2 separate regions of the Homo sapiens genome follow, and region 2 is linked to region 1. Evidence: fine-mapped expression QTL. Tissue or cell type: whole blood. Region 1 holds a variant in brackets; the other region holds the start of a gene. All regions are shown on one strand. Distances are from middle to middle.

What was found. PIP is the estimated chance that this variant, and not a neighbour inherited with it, causes the effect.
Region 2: it holds the start of OTOF, and the variant in region 1 is fine-mapped to the expression of OTOF in whole blood (INTERVAL, PIP 0.98).

The regions. Positions count from the first base shown.
Region 1 is chr2:26,456,161-26,464,261 of GRCh38, forward strand. It overlaps DRC1 (dynein regulatory complex subunit 1), which reads left to right. Exons shown (of 17, transcript NM_145038.5): 17 at 301-551. The coding sequence ends at 357. OTOF (otoferlin) reads right to left here. Exons shown (of 47, transcript NM_194248.3): 40 at 7,804-7,946; 41 at 7,323-7,411; 42 at 5,923-6,021; 43 at 5,536-5,777; 44 at 4,692-4,870; 45 at 4,487-4,587; 46 at 3,848-4,045; 47 at 1,043-2,060. The coding sequence ends at 3,865. Among named protein-coding and RNA genes, the nearest start is that of DRC1, 58 kb to the left of the region's middle. RefSeq lists enhancers at 1,472-2,042, 2,043-2,612, 4,301-5,006, 6,692-7,891, 7,461-7,755. The variant CAA/C (reference allele first, on the strand shown) is at 3,392.
Region 2 is chr2:26,554,129-26,562,229 of GRCh38, forward strand. It overlaps OTOF (otoferlin), which reads right to left and starts at 4,628. Exons shown (of 47, transcript NM_194248.3): 1 at 4,365-4,628. The coding sequence starts at 4,443. RefSeq lists enhancers at 3,989-4,782, 4,783-5,575.

The sequences.
Region 1 (8,101 bases):
CAGGCTAGATTGGGGATGGCATGGGTGCGTGGAGAGAGGAGAGGGGAAGACTGCAGAGAATGGACGGGCGGGAGATGAAGAACGCTACCAGAGGTCACAGCTGGAGCAGAAGCTGAGCAAGAAGGCTCAGGCGTGTCTCCTGCAGGGAGGCAGTCTGTGGGTGTTCAGCATCTCTCAGCTTTGGAGAGGAGATGCGTGCAGGGCTTTGGAGGCCCATGGGAGAGCCAGCGTGGCTCGCAAGGGTGGCAAAGAAGGAGGGCCCTGGGAAAAATGTAACGACTTTCACCCTTTCTTTTCCAGATCAACTCTGAACTGCAAGTTCCTCCCACTCAGGTGTTGCGGGTACCCACAAAATGAGCTGGACCGCCAAAGGCTGATGTGTTAGGGCTGGCCTGATGCTGGTGTCTGTGCCGGAGCCAGCTCATATCACCCACTGGGCCGCACCTGGGCCTGCTCTCTGGATTTTCCAGGGCTGTCTTTATAGCCTGTCGAAATAAGGAGCCAGAGGAGTTACCTGTGTCCTGCATTATGATTAAAGCCTTTTAAAGTTGTGGCTGAATCTCTTTAAAGAGGTCAGGTCTAGCAAGACCAGGCCCTTGCCCCTACCTCTGTGTCATGAGGGGACTTTGCCCCAGGCTCAGATAGTGGTGTGAGTCAGAGGCCGAGGCCAGTAGCGTGGGGCTCCTTTCTTGCTTTCAGGGGAACTGGTTTCTGTGGGTGGAGGCTAGAGCTTTTGGGCCCTTGTGGGGCCTTAAGCCTTCAGACTGGCCCCAGACCTGAAGGATTCTTTCGGTGCTTTGGGGGCCCCTGGGCCCAGGCTGGTGTGCCCTTTGGGCTATGGTGTAAGACTCCTCCTGTGGGCAGCCTGGGTGGGCAGCCCTGTGCCTGAGGCCTGCCTTGAACCCTGGGCCACCAGAGGCCACTTGAAGGGGAAAGGCCATGGGAGCCCTGCTGGTACTGAATCTGCCAGCCTAGAGAACTGCTGCCTCTGCCCCGCACCTGCGGCTGCTCCTCTCAGCTTGACCAGTGCAGACCTGTCAGCTCAGTGCTTGACTTCTTTTATTTAGAGAAAAATCACCACTCAAGAAAAGAAAAACAGCCAACAGAAACCCAGACACAGGCAGGGGCAGCACTTGACGGGCCAGCTCCCAGCTGCAGCTGAAAGGGCTGGAAGGGCAAGGGGGCAGGGGTGGGAGGACAGGGTGTGCCCGGGATGGGGAGTCCCCTCTGCTGCTTCTCACAGCTCCTCAGCTGGGCCTGGAGGCGCTGGCTGGGGCAGAGGGAGCTCTGGGAAGCCATGGAAACCCACAGGCAGGACAGGCGACCCCCTGGGAAGTGAGAGGAGCCAAGTGGAGCCCAGCAGTGGCAGAAGCAGCCGCGCTGGGACTTGTGGGCAGGGTCTGGCCCCTGCTGCGGATCAAAGACCGGTGCTATCTGCAGGGGTCACGGCGGGGATACCTTTTGCTCGTTCATTCTTTTTAAAGCCCTGGGCACTGACCCATGGTCCTTGGTTAATTTCACTAAAGCTTCAATCCTGTACTTGGAAGACCTGGGGAGGGTTTCAGGAGTCTTCCTCTGGAGCCTGGGCCTGAAGAAGGGTGGCGCCTCAGCCAGGTGGGGCAAGAGAGACCCATTCCAGGTCCCCACCCCATCCAAGGCTCCCCAGCCCACAGGCAGGGGTCAGAGGGGCGGGACTGGGCAAGCCGCAGCCTGGGGCAGTGAGGACAGGCGGCCCCCGCAAGCAGGAGGCAGGCTCGGCCCAAGGCATGAAGAGTGGACGCTGGGCTCCTCAGGCTCCCCAGGGGAGATGGGAAAGAGTCCAAGCCACTGAAAGGAAATGCGGCAGGGCTGGGGAGCGGCTGGCGGGAGCTGGCGGCCTTCATGCCCCAAGGAGCTTTTTGACCATGTAGCCAGGGAGGCTGTAGAGGAAGAGCCCCAACATGAGCAGCCCCAACAGCGCCAGCACGATCTTGATGATGAGCCACTTGTACCGGGTGCAGATGAGGTACTTGATGGACTTGAGAGGGTTGAGGAACCAGACGAAGGCCGTGTCGGGCCGGCTGGGAAGTGGAAGAGAGGAGCCGGTCAGCCAGTGGGCAGGAGCTGCCTCCCAGTGCACCCCATCCTCTGTCCTTCTGGACCCCCAAAAGCCCTGCCATGGCCCCAGCCCCAAAAGCAGTGAATGCTGGAGCCAGGGTTTAAACCCATTTCTAAGTACCCGACTTGCTGCTTACAAAACTCTATCCTCCCTGCAGCACCTTTGGGGCCCGAATCTCCTCCTAAGGCCTAGATGGGAGCTACTTGCAGCATGGGGCAGCCTTGGCCCTGCAGGCAGTTCTCATCGTTAGGAAGCTCCTGCGGTTAGCTCGTTCTATGTGCTGCCCCACGTCCTTGGTAAGACTGGTGCTTCACAACCTCTTCCTTTCTGATGGACATAAATGGCTGTTCCCACCGGGCCCTGCTGAGGGTCTGAGCAGCCCCTGTGGGGTGCAAGCTGCCCTCACCGACCTGCCCACTCTCAGGATGAAGACCCACTCCACCTTCTGTAGAGCCTCCCAGCCGAGAAGCACCTGGCCAGCCTCACTATCTGTCGTTTGTGTTATAAAAACAATAGGTTTTGTAAAATGTCAAGATACAAGTGAAAGTACTGCATATGCATTTTCAAACTACTGCCTCCCAGAGGACATGGCGTGCAGCCCCAGAGCTGAGCTCAGTATTGGTGGGGACACAGAGCCGGGGCTTGGGTGCAGGGCACCTGGTTTTGAATGGTTTTCACAGGCAAGTGAGGCACCTCTATCAACCTCGGTTTCTTCATGTATAAAATGGGGTTACAAGCAGTACCTACCTCCTGGGTTTGGCGCAATGGCACAGTGAGCCAGTGCCTGGGGAGCTCTGAGCACCTGCAGTTGGGTGTTCAGGCCATGGTGGCTATGAAATGTTTGAGTTGAATGGAATTATTATCCTGAAGGGCAGAAAACAACAGCCCTGGACTGGGAGGTCACACACGGGTGAGAGCCATTTCCAGACCTGTTGGCTAACCCTGGCCACACCCTTCCCTTTTCCCTGTCCATAGCTCAGCTTCTTTCTGCCAATGAAATTGGGTTAGAGTCGGCTGGGCGCGGTGGCTCACGCCTGTAATCCCAGCACTTTGGGAGGCCGAGATGGGCGGATCACGAGGTCAGGAGATCGAGACCATCCTGGCTAACACAGTGAAACCCCGTCTCTACTAAAAATACAAAAAATTATCCAGGCGTGGTGGCGGGTGCCTGTAGTCCCAGCTACTCAGGAGGCTGAGGCAGGAGAATGGCGTGAACCCGGGAGGCGGAGCTGGCAGTGAGCCAAGATTGTGCCACTGCACTCTAGCCTGGGCGACAGAGCGAGACTCTGTCTC[CAA/C]AAAAAAAAAAAAAAAAAAAAAATTGGGTTACAGTCTGGGAGAAACATGGCTGGGAGCAGAGGTGGTGTGCAAAGAACACAGGATTGGAAATTTGGAAACCTTGGCTTGAGTCCCGGCTCTACCCTAATTTGCTGGGTAACCTTGAGCAAGCTACTTCACCTCTTTGGCTTAATGTGGAAAAGTGTAAAATAGTCATTTCTAGTTCTGAGAGTCTATTCTGTCATGAAAGCTTGAAAGTTGCTGTGCATGTTTGTGTGGGCTTAAGTGTGTGCCTGTGTGTGCTTGAGTGCATGTGTATGCACTTGTGCGTGGCACATGTGTGCATACATGCTTGTGTGTGTTTGTGTGCACATGTATGCATATTTGTGTTTGTGGATGTGTGCGTGTATATGTGTGTGTGTGCACGCGCCTGCCTAGCCCTTGGTCCAGAGGAAGAAGTAAGAAATATCAGACCCAGGAGGCCACTGGGCTCAGGCCCCGAGGATTTTCTTGACCAGGTAGCCAGGCACAGAGTAGAGGAACAGGGCGAGGAGGAGGAGCAGCAGCAGGAGCAGCAACAGTTTGAGGAGCAGCCAGCGATACGTGTGCCACAAGAAGTAGCGAGCCGACTTGAGAGGGTTCAGGAACCAGATGAAGCTCGTGTCGGGCCGGCTGGAGTATGAAGGGTAGAGAGCGCAGAGGAGGGACAGGGAGGAGAAGGGATTGGGTGTGGCGAGGGGCCAAGACCAAGAGGGAAGCTGTCCTGGGCTGTGTGTGCAGTTCTAGGCACCCCTCTGGCCATCAAGGCTGGCCATGGCCCCAGAGGCCACCACTGGAGCTGGCTCTTCTGCAAAAGCTAGGAAGGGAAGAGCATAGTTTCTCTCCGCTAGATGGGGCCTTTCCCAGGGAAGGTCCTGCTCTCCAGTATTCCTAGCCCATCCTCTGGTTCAAAGGGACGTTGTGGGATTCAGGGTTGGCAGAGGGCAGGGAGGAGGCTCCCCTGTAATGAGGCTGTGGCCCAGGAAGAGATGGGGTGTCTGGGGATCGTCTCCTTCCTGTTCCAGCGCCTCCAAGAGCCAGAGTGGGGAGGGGCTGGGCCGGCAGGGCACTCACTTGGGTTTCTCTAGGGGGTCAGGTTCATTGCGGGCCAGGCCCACTGGGTTCTTCTCTGCCTCCTCTGCTGTCAGTAAATGCAGCTCAGCCTCCACCTTGCCCTGCAGAGGACAGACAGGTCCCAGCGTCCAGGCTGCGTGCTGGGCCCTTGGCACCCCAGCCAGTCCCAGCCCTGCCTACTGCCCGAGCAGGAAGGGGTGCGCACCGTGAGCTCAAACTCATCGTTCTCATTGCGGGCCAGGAGGGGCCACCAGCCTTTGACGCGCTTTTGCTTGAAGATGGACACGAGGGGCACGTCCACCTCCCCGGTGGCCATCTCCATGGTGCACTGCTTGGCTGTCTTTGCGCCCCGCGGGAACCGGTTCAGGTCCAGCTCGATGGCCCCTGTGGCAACCTCAGTGTCAGCTCAGAGTGAACAGGGCTGGGGTGGGGCGGGGTGGGGGTGGGGGTCTGGGCTCCTCGGCCCCTTGTTTGCTGAGTGCAGACCTCCCTGAGCCCACATCTCATCCTCCTGCCTCACTCCCAGCAACTGGCCTCAATGCAGGCATCCTCGTGGGCTTGCTAGGCAGCCCCAGCCCCCATGCTTTACTCAGGTCCTTCTTTCACCCCAGAGGGTCTCTCCTGGGGTCTCCCCTGCCACTCCCTGCCATGCATCCATTCTGTCAAAGTCCTGCTAATCCCACAAGCTTTTGCAGATGCAGATTAGAGTTTTAGGGAGAATCCCTGCTTTACAGAGAAGCAACCTGAGGCCCAGGGAGGTTTCCCGACTCCCTTAGGGAGCCTCTCCCCTCCCCCATCATCACTGACTGCCCCCTCCTTGGTGTGTCCAAAGCTTGTTGTCAGCCTGGTTATGACACTGAGAACATCTGCCTAGGGACGGTTAGGTGGGTCCTTGGGGGCGGAACCCCGTCGGACACCCCTGGCTCTGATGGACTGGAAGCAATGACCCCTTGTCCCCCCAAGGCAGGGCTCTCCCTGTCCCCGCCAACCCGGCCCCTGCCTCTTCTCAGTTCTGGATCCTGAACCCCCATCCCTGCCCTGCTCTGCACCCAGGAAGTCGTCAGCGGAGAAGTGGTCCGCATCCCAGATCTGCAGGGTGAGCCGCGCGGGGATCTTGTACTCGGTCTCGTCCCAGGAGAACATGGACTCCTTCTTGGAGATGACGATCTTCTCCTCCGCCGCCAGGTAGTCGAAGGGGAACAGGTAGCGCCAGTTGAAGTTGCCCTCGCCAGTGAGGGAGTGGTAGTGGACGTCTGTGTCCTGCTTGTCCTCCTGCTGGCCCTTCAGCCACCTGTGGGCGCCACATCTCCAGACCCGCAGCCAGGCTGGTGGGGCCTCTCCCACCCACAGCCACCTTCCCTCTGCCTCCTCTCCTGCCCCCCGGGAAGCAAGCCCCACCCAGCTCAGTCCCTCCCATGCAGGGACTGCTCACCCACCCCCTCACGAAGATGTCACTGGACTTCTCCCCTGTGAAGAAGTCGTCGTCCTCCAAGACCACCTCATCTGTGTTCCAGATGATGACCCGCAGCTCGTACCTGGGCCCAGGGAGAGAAGGCTGGTTAGCAGCCCCAGGTGGGGGTTATGCCAGGGTGCCAGGGCTGGGATGGGGCAGGCGGAGAGAAGCCCTGGGGTCTTGGGGTCAGCACAGGGCCTGGGCCAGGCTGGGGCTGGAGGAGTGGTTTGGGGTTGGGGGAGCAGAGGCATGAGTGAGAAGGCCCACCAGGCACATGGCTGTGGGCGGTGGGGGTGGGGTGAGGGGAGGAAGCCACCCTCTGTCTCAGATGCTAGTTCCAAGAGAAGTCTGCATTTAAGCCCAGTAGCCAGCAATGGAAGCCCATGGAAGCTGTATGTCCCTGTCCCCAAAGAGGATTTTCCCCTCAAGGTTTAATTGTAATTATGAATGATGTAGTTCATTTCAATCATTAAGAGTGAGGCTGAGTCATTCACTAAAAATTGATCTGAGCATGGCTCTCCTGGGATTGCAGACAGGGCTGCGAGCCCAGAGTGGCCCAGTGAGTTGGGTGCCCCCTAATGACAGGCCCTGGAACAGCTGACTCATGGCCTCAGGTTTCCAGGACATTCCTGGCAGAATTTGCTGCATGATTTGCTGGGGCCAGCGCCAAATGGAAATGCAGGGTCACTTGTCATAAAGAATTTCAAGATGGCAACATAGGAGCATGGAAACAAGAGTGGGACCCTGTGTGGCTTCCTCCATCCCTGAAGCTGGCCCTGAATCCAGTCACTGTCTGACAGCTGGACTTGAACCTGCCGCTTTATGGATGGGAAACCCGGGTTCTTTTCACTCTACCACCTCCTGCCTCTTCCAGGCACTCACTCCTGGATTCATCACTGGCAGGCACTCCAAAGAAAACTTGGCGGAACATCACACTAGCCTGGATGTGAGGATGACGCAGGGCCGGCTCCCAGGGGTTCTGTGTGTTGTGAAGGAGTGCGTCAGTGTGGGCATGTGTGTGGGTGTCCGTGGGAGTGCTATGCTGTGTGTGTGTGTGTGCATGAGATGCATGTGTATGGGCGCGTAGACCGTGTAGATACAATGCACCGGAGTGTGCTGTGTGGGGCTTGTCTCGCTCACTGATGCAGGGTGGAAGGCGTTGTCCTGCCTTAGCACGTGGGGACTCTCCAGGGCAGGCCCTAAACTCTATCGATTGGTTGGTCAGTTTCTCCCCTATAAGGCCCAGTGGCCACACCCAGGCCCCAGGGATGCCAACTGGCCAAGGCCATCTGGACCTGAGCCCCCCGCAGGAAGGGTTGGGCCGTGGTGGGAAGTGGGTGGGGTGGGCCGGAAGGGAGTAGCGCTGGGCCCCAGGCCGCTCACTTCTTGGGCTTCCGAGGTGAGATGTCCAGAGGCGTCCCAGGGGCTGGCATGTCCATGGGGAACATGTCCACCCACAGCTCCAGGCGGCCCTGAGGAAGAGGGTTGTGGCAGATCTCCCAGGGCCTTCTCCCTCTGCCCAGGAAGATCAGCTCTCCTCTCCCTCCTAACCTTTGTTCTGTCAAGGACCCAGTTCATCAGTTTCCATCTTTGGATGCCAGGAATTCCTATGATGTCACCAATAGCCAATCACAGCTTCTGAGGGAGACAACCCAGGTCTCTGCCTGAGCTGATGTAATTCTCACTCAAAGCAAAGACCCTTGCCATTCAAGTTACCCTGAGGGGCCTTGGTGGGAAGGTGCCTGCCAGGCTTTCTGGAATGCAGCGGACAGCGTGAGGCCTGGCTTCTACCTTTACTGACTCAGGTTGGGGATCCCTGGTCCCCAATACCCAAGAACCCCAGTCTTGGCCATGCAAGTGTCACCTGCTCGATGCCCGGCTTGTCGGGGTTGAGCAGCGGCCTCGTCTCCACATGCTCTGGCACCAGGCGGCAGCCTGCGCGGGGGATGTCCTCCCAGTGCCTCAGGGCCAACAGCGCCACATGCTCGTCTGTGGGCTTCCTCTGACCTGTGGGTGCCGGCGGCTCAGCTGCACACATGGCTCAGCAGAACCAGAAGACCTTTGCTGGGACTAGGGACTTAGGAGCACAAAGAAGCCTCTATGCCATCACCTGTCTACCCCACCTCCTTTTCACTGTTGGGGAAACTGAGGCACAGAAGGAG
Region 2 (8,101 bases), 98 kb after region 1:
CTGCACTGCACTCCAGCCTGGCGACAGAGCGAGACTCAAAAAAAAAAAAAAAAAAAAAAATCGTTAGGCCCCTCTGGAGCCCTAGAAGATTCTCTGGGTTAGGGAAGTTGATGGAAGGAGTAAGAGCCAAGGTTCTTGGTTCTTGGCCCTTGAGGCCTCTTCCAGTCCCTTGATCCTCCTTGGATAGAAAGTTCTGGGGTGAGAGCTCACAGTTGGGGAAATGGAGCCAAAGAGTGACAGTGCCACAGTGGAAGAACTCAAACCCATGACACAGTGAATCCCTCAAAGACAGAAACCATGTCTGATGTCTGTCCTGAAGATGCTCAAAAGCTTGGGCAGCATGCAGAGGTGTGGCCAGTTTCTGAAATGCAATGTACCTTGGCAGAGCAGTAGGAAGAATGTGTGCAAAGTACTGCTAGAGGAGTACTTTGTGTGCAAAGTACTACTCCTTCATGGAGGAGGTAGCATATGAGCTGGGCCTTGAAGGATGAGCAGAATTAATGGGCGTTCTCAAGGTGGAGGGTGGTCATTCCAGGCAGAAGAAATATGATCGATGTCTCAAAGTTTGGAGGTGTAAAAGGGTGTGGTATCTTTTGGGAATGGCTGGAAGTTGAATGTAGTGGGAACATAGCAGGGTGGGAATCAGGGGGAGGGTGGGAAGAAGAGTAAGAATGAAAAGGTGGAGGGGGATGCCCTGCAAACCTTTGTGCCAATTTCCAGCCACAGTGAATTATGTGGAAGCCAGATCCAGCCTTTAGATGTTCTTATCTCACACAGAAAATCCCCAAACCTCATGTCTTGGCAAGAAGGCTCAGGGGATAGAAAGAGAAGGGAGACATCAGGGTTGGCCCTGGACTGTCTGTCACTTGGTTCCCTTACAGTCCAGGTCCCCCAGCCTTGGTGCTCAGCACTGGACAGAAGGTTGGACTAGAAGAACTTCGGGACCCTTCACACCCTGCGTTCTGTGGCTCTGTGATTGATGTAGGGAACTATCTCAGGAGTTGATAAAGGAAATACCTGAAGCTAATACTTCCTCTCTTTGAGTAGCAACCTGTGGTCAAGATGGCTCCTTCTTAGATAGCCCACTCTTGATTACTCCTGGGAACTGCAGGCCTCTGAGCTAAATGAGGACCACTGTCTCCATTTTGTTAATGAGAAACCCAGCTGAGCCCTGTGGCCTGCAGGCACAATAGAGATTCGCCCAGGACTCCCTATCTCCTGTCTGACCCAATGGGATTGTGACTCCTGGAGGGCCAGGCTGGCCCCTTCACCTCAGGGTCCCAGGCCTGTGCACAAATATTAGCATGTTCAGGAAATGCATGAACAGGGCAGCACCAGCTTAGGAGCAGCCAGGGGCAGTAAGAACTAAGAGCTAGATACAGAACTGGCTGGGAGCACTGACCGAGGGGCCGACTGGCCTGAGGGCAGTGGGAAAAGAGGTGGCCACGGGCAAAGCTGGTGCACACCCAGCCAGATGAGAACAGGAGTCTCGGGGGTCTGCCTGCCTGGGTTCCTGCGGAACATCTCAGCAGAGGCTCCTACAGAGCAGAGTCCAGGCTCTCTGCCTTCTCCTGGCAGACTGGAACCCCTTAGACGTGCTCTCCTCTTCCCTTTATATCTCACATGGGGCCCTCTGCTGGTCTGGAGAGAAGATACCTCAGGGGCCAGCAGCTGCTCCCAAGGAGAATGGGAATGGCTGCCTCACAAACACATCGACCATTTGAATACTCTTCCCACAAACTCTTCCATACCTATGGTTTCCCTGAAGCAATCTAGTGAAGTGAGTGTTATTATCATGCCCATTTTACAGATGAGGAAACTGAGGGTGAGTGGCAGAACCCAGGTAGGATCTAGGGCTTCTGACTCCATATCCAGAACTTTTTCCACAATAGCCCAGGAGGGCTCTTTCCTTAGTGTCTTGGATGGCACAGCACAGAAGGTCAAGCCATATTTCAACCAGCTGCTCTGGCCTACCTAGGGCCACTGCCAATGGGCACAGCTCACCAAGGGCTCCCTCACCACCTCCCCCGGCATTGACTTTCACTCAAAAGCCTTGGGGAGCCTGGGGCCAGTGTCTCCCTCTGCGTGTTTACCAGTTTCTTGTTTCCCCCTGCAGAGGACTTGCTTGGCCCCCAGTGGTTGCATGTGCTGGGAGATGCTAAGGAACATTGTAGAGCGGGTCCATTCCCTCTGAATTGTGGTCAGTGTTGGTCTTTTGGGGCGCCTACAACTGTGAACTGCTAGATGACACAGGTGAGCGGCTGAGGCATCTTTCGTTGTAATAAAGGTACTTTCTGGAAACTGCTTGTCATCTGCCTATTCCTGCTGCCCAGCCCCCTTCCCCAGGAGCTCTGCCCATGGCCACCTCCTGCCAATGTGGAGCTTGGAAGCGATTTCTCCACTCAGTCCAGAGAGCAAGGGTTGCAAATAAACTAATTCCTGTGTGGTCAGTGAGGCTAAAGGCCCAGCCCTTCACTGCTCCAAGGAGAAGATGGGTGTCAGACAAGGTGCTGGCCCCCAGGTGGCCCAGGAGCAGATAAAGAGCTTGCAAGATTGAGTACTCAGGATGAGGTCCTGAGAGCTGGGACCACCGTGCCTCAGCTCCTCCGTGAATGCCACGCGCAGTGTTCTACCCCTGAACCTTGGTTTCTCGGCCTGCAAGTGGGCCTGTCCGGTGCAGCCTGGACCGTTCCAGCACAGCTGCAGCAGGATGGCAACCTGTAGCTTAACCGCCCCACACTATGCTGCCCGTGGAGCTCAGGGCCACATTTCACAGATGAAAGGACACATTTGCTTTTTCTAAAGCCAGCATGAGCCTGCAGGTGGCACACAGAGGGAGATCCAGGGTGCTGCAGAGAAAGCAGTCAGTGGGTTGGGGTGGGAGGCAAAAGGCAGCCCAGCCCACACCTCCCTCTCCCTCCTGCCTAACCTCCGCCTGCCGGCAGGGCCACTGCCATCACCTCCACCCCTGCCTGTCCCTATGAACACAAGCTGCAATGTGGGCATCCCAGGGCCTCTGGGTAGGTGATGTGGGTGCCCCAGGGCTCTTGCTGGAATGTTCTGCCAATGGTCTCTCCCATCCCTTCCAACAGAGGTGCAGACACTGTGTCCAGCCTGGGCCCCAAGGCTCACTTTGCTCTTTAGTATAGGGGGGTCCTCTCTGCCCCCTTCTCACCACCTCGTCCCCATCCCACTCTCAGACCCCTCTCTCGGGAGAAGGGGCCATGTCTAGTGAGAAGTACCCCCAACCCTCAGGGCTGGGCAGCAACCACATGGAGAGGCAGAGGTGGGTGGTGAAGGACAGAGTCAGCCTGGCCCTGCCTTTCCCCACTTAAAATGCTCAGGGGCTCCGCTGTCCCCGGGGTCAGGTCCAGCCTCGCCTCCTTGCCCTGCTTGGCTCTCTGGCCTCCGCTCCTGCACCCTCTCTGAGCTGTAGACACATGGAACCTCTTTCAGTTCCAGAGTTTCAGCTCCTCTCTCAGCTCTGGGCACACTGTTTCCTCTGCCTCCTCAGTCCTTACCTCCTCTCCTAGCTCCCACCCGCTGGTCCTTCGGGTATTAGCTGAGTGTTACTTCCTCCGGGAAGCCTTCCCTGACCACCGGTCACCAGCCTGGGTGAGGGTGCTGCTTCTGTAGCTTGCATGCTGCACCCCCACCTTCTGTCTCACATACCTGTCCTGCTTGTTCCACGCCTGCCCAACAGATGCAGGCTCCTTGGGGCTGGGGCTGGGTTGTGCTCAGCTCTGTGTTTCTACCCCTATCCTTGGGACACAGTAGATCATAATAAATGGTCGCTGAATACAGGAGTGAAAAGGATGAGAAAAGACCAGACAGAAGAGAGGCGAGGGGCTCCCGGGGTTCCCGCCCATGAATAGATCTAAAAGAAGCCAACAGTGTCCCCCATCACTCTGGGGCCCAGGGAGCTACTGGCTGCCTGGTTTCTCCCAGTCACCCTGGGTGCCCCAGGCTCCATACCCGGCCCCCACCCTGTGCTCAAGGAAATCAACCTGCAGGAGAGGGAGAGAGAGAGAAGGAGGGGGTCCTGGGTCTCCCTGAGCTCAGGGATGTGGTCCTCACTTCTGCCTCCCCAGGCAGAGGGCTCTGTGCCCTGCCCGGGGAACTGGCATGTTGGCAAGCACAAGGAGACACAGGCATGGAAGAACAGGGGACCCTGATTTTCCAGAAATCACAATGGCCAGTCAGTCCCAGGCAGATGACTACCTGTGAAAAGGCTCGTCGCCCCAGCCCCTGCTAGAACTTTTCCCACCCATCCTCCCAGCCCTGTCCTATCCCCGGCCACCTCCAGAGCATGGGCTGGTCCAGCTCTCAGAGCTGGCGTCCCTCTGAGACAGCGGCTTCCCTACCTCGGAAAGTCACTTTGGCGATCCGGTCGCCCCTGCCCCGCAGCTCCGAGACTGTCTTGAGGTGGATGAGCAAGGCCATGCTGGTGTGGGCTGCCTGGCACTGCCAGGCAGGAGCAGCGGGAAGGAGCTAGCCGGTGGAGCACGGCTCACACGCCTCTCTCTTCTCTGCCGCTGCCTCCTCCTCCTCCTCCCGACCCCCCTCCGATGCTGCCCACAGAGACCAAGGCAACCAAGCCGAGCTAAGCTGCTCCTGCAGCGACTCACAGAGCCTCACAGCCCCCGCCCCTCCAAGTTGTCAGCCCAGCGTGTGTGTATCGGTGTGTGCGTGTGTGTGTGTGTGTGTGTGCACCCAATGTGCAGCCTGGGAGTGCGGCAGAGTTGGAATTCATTATTCAGCAGCCGCCGGCTCCCAGATAAAGCTCTGTCCAGCTTCAGGTGTCTTCTCCCAGCTCCTGGAAGGGAGGCTCTGCCCACCCCTCTGCAGGGCTCTGCTGCTTCCCTGCTAAGCAAGCCCTGCCACCAGTAGTGGGCACAGAGGAGTGGGCATGAGCATAGGTAGGGTGGATGTGGGGCGGGGGGCACTCCCACCCACAGGGGCACACTACAAGAAGAAGGGAATGTATTTGTCCACCTACGCCCACCTCTTCCCTGCTGGAGACTGTGCCCCCAAGAGGCTGGGCCCTGAGCCCTGCCCTGGGATCCCTGTTTCTGAATCTCAGGAAGCAGAGAGGCTGGGGCTGCTGCCTGAGGGGAGGCTCAGGACCAGGCCATGCATGATGGAGATGGCTGGTTGTGGAGGCAGCAGAGGCTTATGTGCTACCAGGGGCCATGTTTAAGGATCCAGGGCACTAACCTAGCCCCACCCCAAGGCTGGGGGTCAGGCAGGCTAGCGAAGGTAAGCCAGGCTGATGTTTGCTTTCCAGCCAGAGGAGCAGAATTGAATGGCCTTCTGCTGTTATAAGCTGCTAGGGGCAGGAGAAGGGATGTCTATAGGGAAATTTCTAAGGACCAAAAGAGAACTGCCCCCTCCTGTCTTCCAGCAGCATACACCAAGGAAAGGGACGCTGGGGGCCAGAATCCCTGATGCTGGAATCTGTGCAGGGTCATCTGCAGCCTTGTTCTTGCTATTCATTCTTGGTGGAATGCCCTCCACCCCACCCTGGACTCAGCTTGAGTGCCTGCTCCTGGAGGTGCCTCTGTACCCGCACCCCAGCTGGGTTGGGGTCCTCCTCTGTGCTGCTCCTGCCTCCTCTCATCTTACTGAGTCCTGGGGCTGCTTCCCTTGCCTTTTCCCCTCCTGACCTCAGGAGGGCCCTGGAGCACAGCATCCCTCTACCCCAGAGCCCCACATGGTATCCTGTGCACCGTAGGATGCCCAATTACTGTTGAAAGGATAAAAGAGTGAGCTCAGGGATCTACCTGAAACAGAGTCTAAAGGTTAAAAAGAGAAATACTAATTTTTCACAGCATGGTAACAAGAGGTTACTTCTTTTGAATTCTGCATTCCAAATAACCTACAGTATGTCCCAAGAGCCTTCTTTCCTCCTTCTAGATATTTCCTTGCTACTGTGCCCTATTTTTCTTTTTCTACTTACGTTTTTTTCCTTTGCACTTTTTCCTAACCAATTCTTGCTTACCTTTCTCACATTTATCTAATCATATTGAATTTAAAAATGTCTTAGAGTATTCTGTTTATTGAATACAAGTATGAATGCTAAATTTTCAAAAGCTAGATAAGTTTAATGTCTTAAAAAAAAAAACACCTAAATTCACTAGCATTTTCCATCCATGAGGTCATCAGGTGATCTGTGTTTTTAAGGCTTGGTGACTACAAGGTACAACAACAACAACAGAAAATATCTTCTTCCTTGGTTCTCTGGAGGTCCTCCCCTGAAAGGAGTGAATTTCATGAGGCCTCTTATAGACCCTGTGCATCTTTAGGAAAAAGCCCATGATCCTGCCCTAGCCAAGGCATTGATCTATGCTGAATCTCACTTTCCACATCCATAAAATGGTAGCAATTCCACTCAGCAGCTCTCAATGGAGTCAGCTGGCCTTTCTGAAAACCTAAGAGACAGATCCCACTCTTTTTTTTTTTTTTTTTTTGAGAGAGAGTCTCACTCTGTCACCCAGGCTGGAGGGCAGTGGAGTGATCTAGGCTCACTGCAACCTCTGCCTCCCGGGTTCAAGCGATTCTCCTGCCTCAGCCTCCCAAATAGGTCAGACTATAAGCATGTGCTACCATGCCCAGCTAATGTTTGTATTTTTAGTAGAGATGGGGTTTCACCATGTTGGCTAGGCTGGTCTCAAACTGCTGACCTCAAGTGATCCGCCTGCCTCGGCCTTCCAAAATGCTGGGATTACAGGCATGAGCCACCGTTCCCAGCCAGAACCCACTTTTTAATTTCCATTCTTCTGTTACCCATTTTGGTAACTGAGTATATAATTTATGTAATGAACATTTACTGAATTCTTTCCAGAGCCAGGTGCTGAGATTCAGGGATGAATATGATATGGATGGCACAGGATCCCAATCAGACGAGACAGATGGACTAGAACACAGGCAGGTGGAAGGCAGGGTGGTGGGTTTACCAGCAGGACTGGCTGGGCAGCCCTGAATGGGGGAGGAAGTAGGCGGTCAACCTCACCAGGGCTGGGGGTCTTTGACTCATGTTTTCCTTATTGTAGAACATGTTCCCCAATGAGAATTTAGAAAAATACAGACATGACTGCATTCTGAAGGATGGATGGATTTTCCTTCCACCCAGTTTGTTTGCAGCCGTTCCTTTGCCTACAGCTCTCTTTCCAACCAGGCCTCAGTGTTTCTGCTTCCTGAGCCTCTGGGAAGCCTGTGGCTCCCCTTCATTTCATTGGCATTTGCCAGGGGAAGTCTTTGGAGAATGCTGGTGGCAGCCACATTCTGTGAACCCAGTAGCGTCTGCGGTCTTCATCCACTGCCATTTACAGAACCGAAGTGCGAGGGGAGCACTGCTCTCCATCCGGCATCTGAAGGGAAGAAGCAAGACCTGGAGACAAAGTGGGAACTGCCAGGCTTCTTCATGACACCAGGACTGCTGCAGAGGGAGCTGGGGTGGCAGGGCCTCCACCCGAGTCACCAAGAGCCTGGCACCGTGGAAGCTGTCCCCATACCCTCACCCCTTATGGAAAAGCCGAAGGCCCTGTGCCTGCCCTAGGCACCAAGGCTGGTGTAAGGGTCCCTGGAGAAACTCAAATGTGGAGGCTGAAGCAGTCACAGGGAGGATTACACAGGGGGTGGGCCTTCAGCAGGCCTGCTCTCTGGGGCAAGCGCTACCCCTGCGGATGCCATCCCCAAAATGAACGGCAGCATTGGGGACAAATGTAAATCACACACCCAGACGTTCTATGATTTTCTTTTTGCCTCTTGTGGAGTAGTTTACAGGTATGATGAGGTGAGAAGGAAGCCATCAGCTAGAGATTAAGAAGAAAAATGAAAAATGCTCCTCTTCGCAAGGCGCGCACACACACACGCACACATGCACGCACGCACGCACACACACAATTACACACAGCGTCCTAGGCAACCTCGCCCAGCGCGGCCCACTACAGAGCCCCTTCCTGGAACTCCCATGGAGCTGGGGTGCAGGGGAAGCCTTGGAGAGACATAGCTCCTGGGGACCCTAAGGCCACTCAGGTTTCTGGGCCTGAGCCACGGTGGGGCAGCTGCTTCGTGCGTGACCTCCAAAGTCAGGACCTGG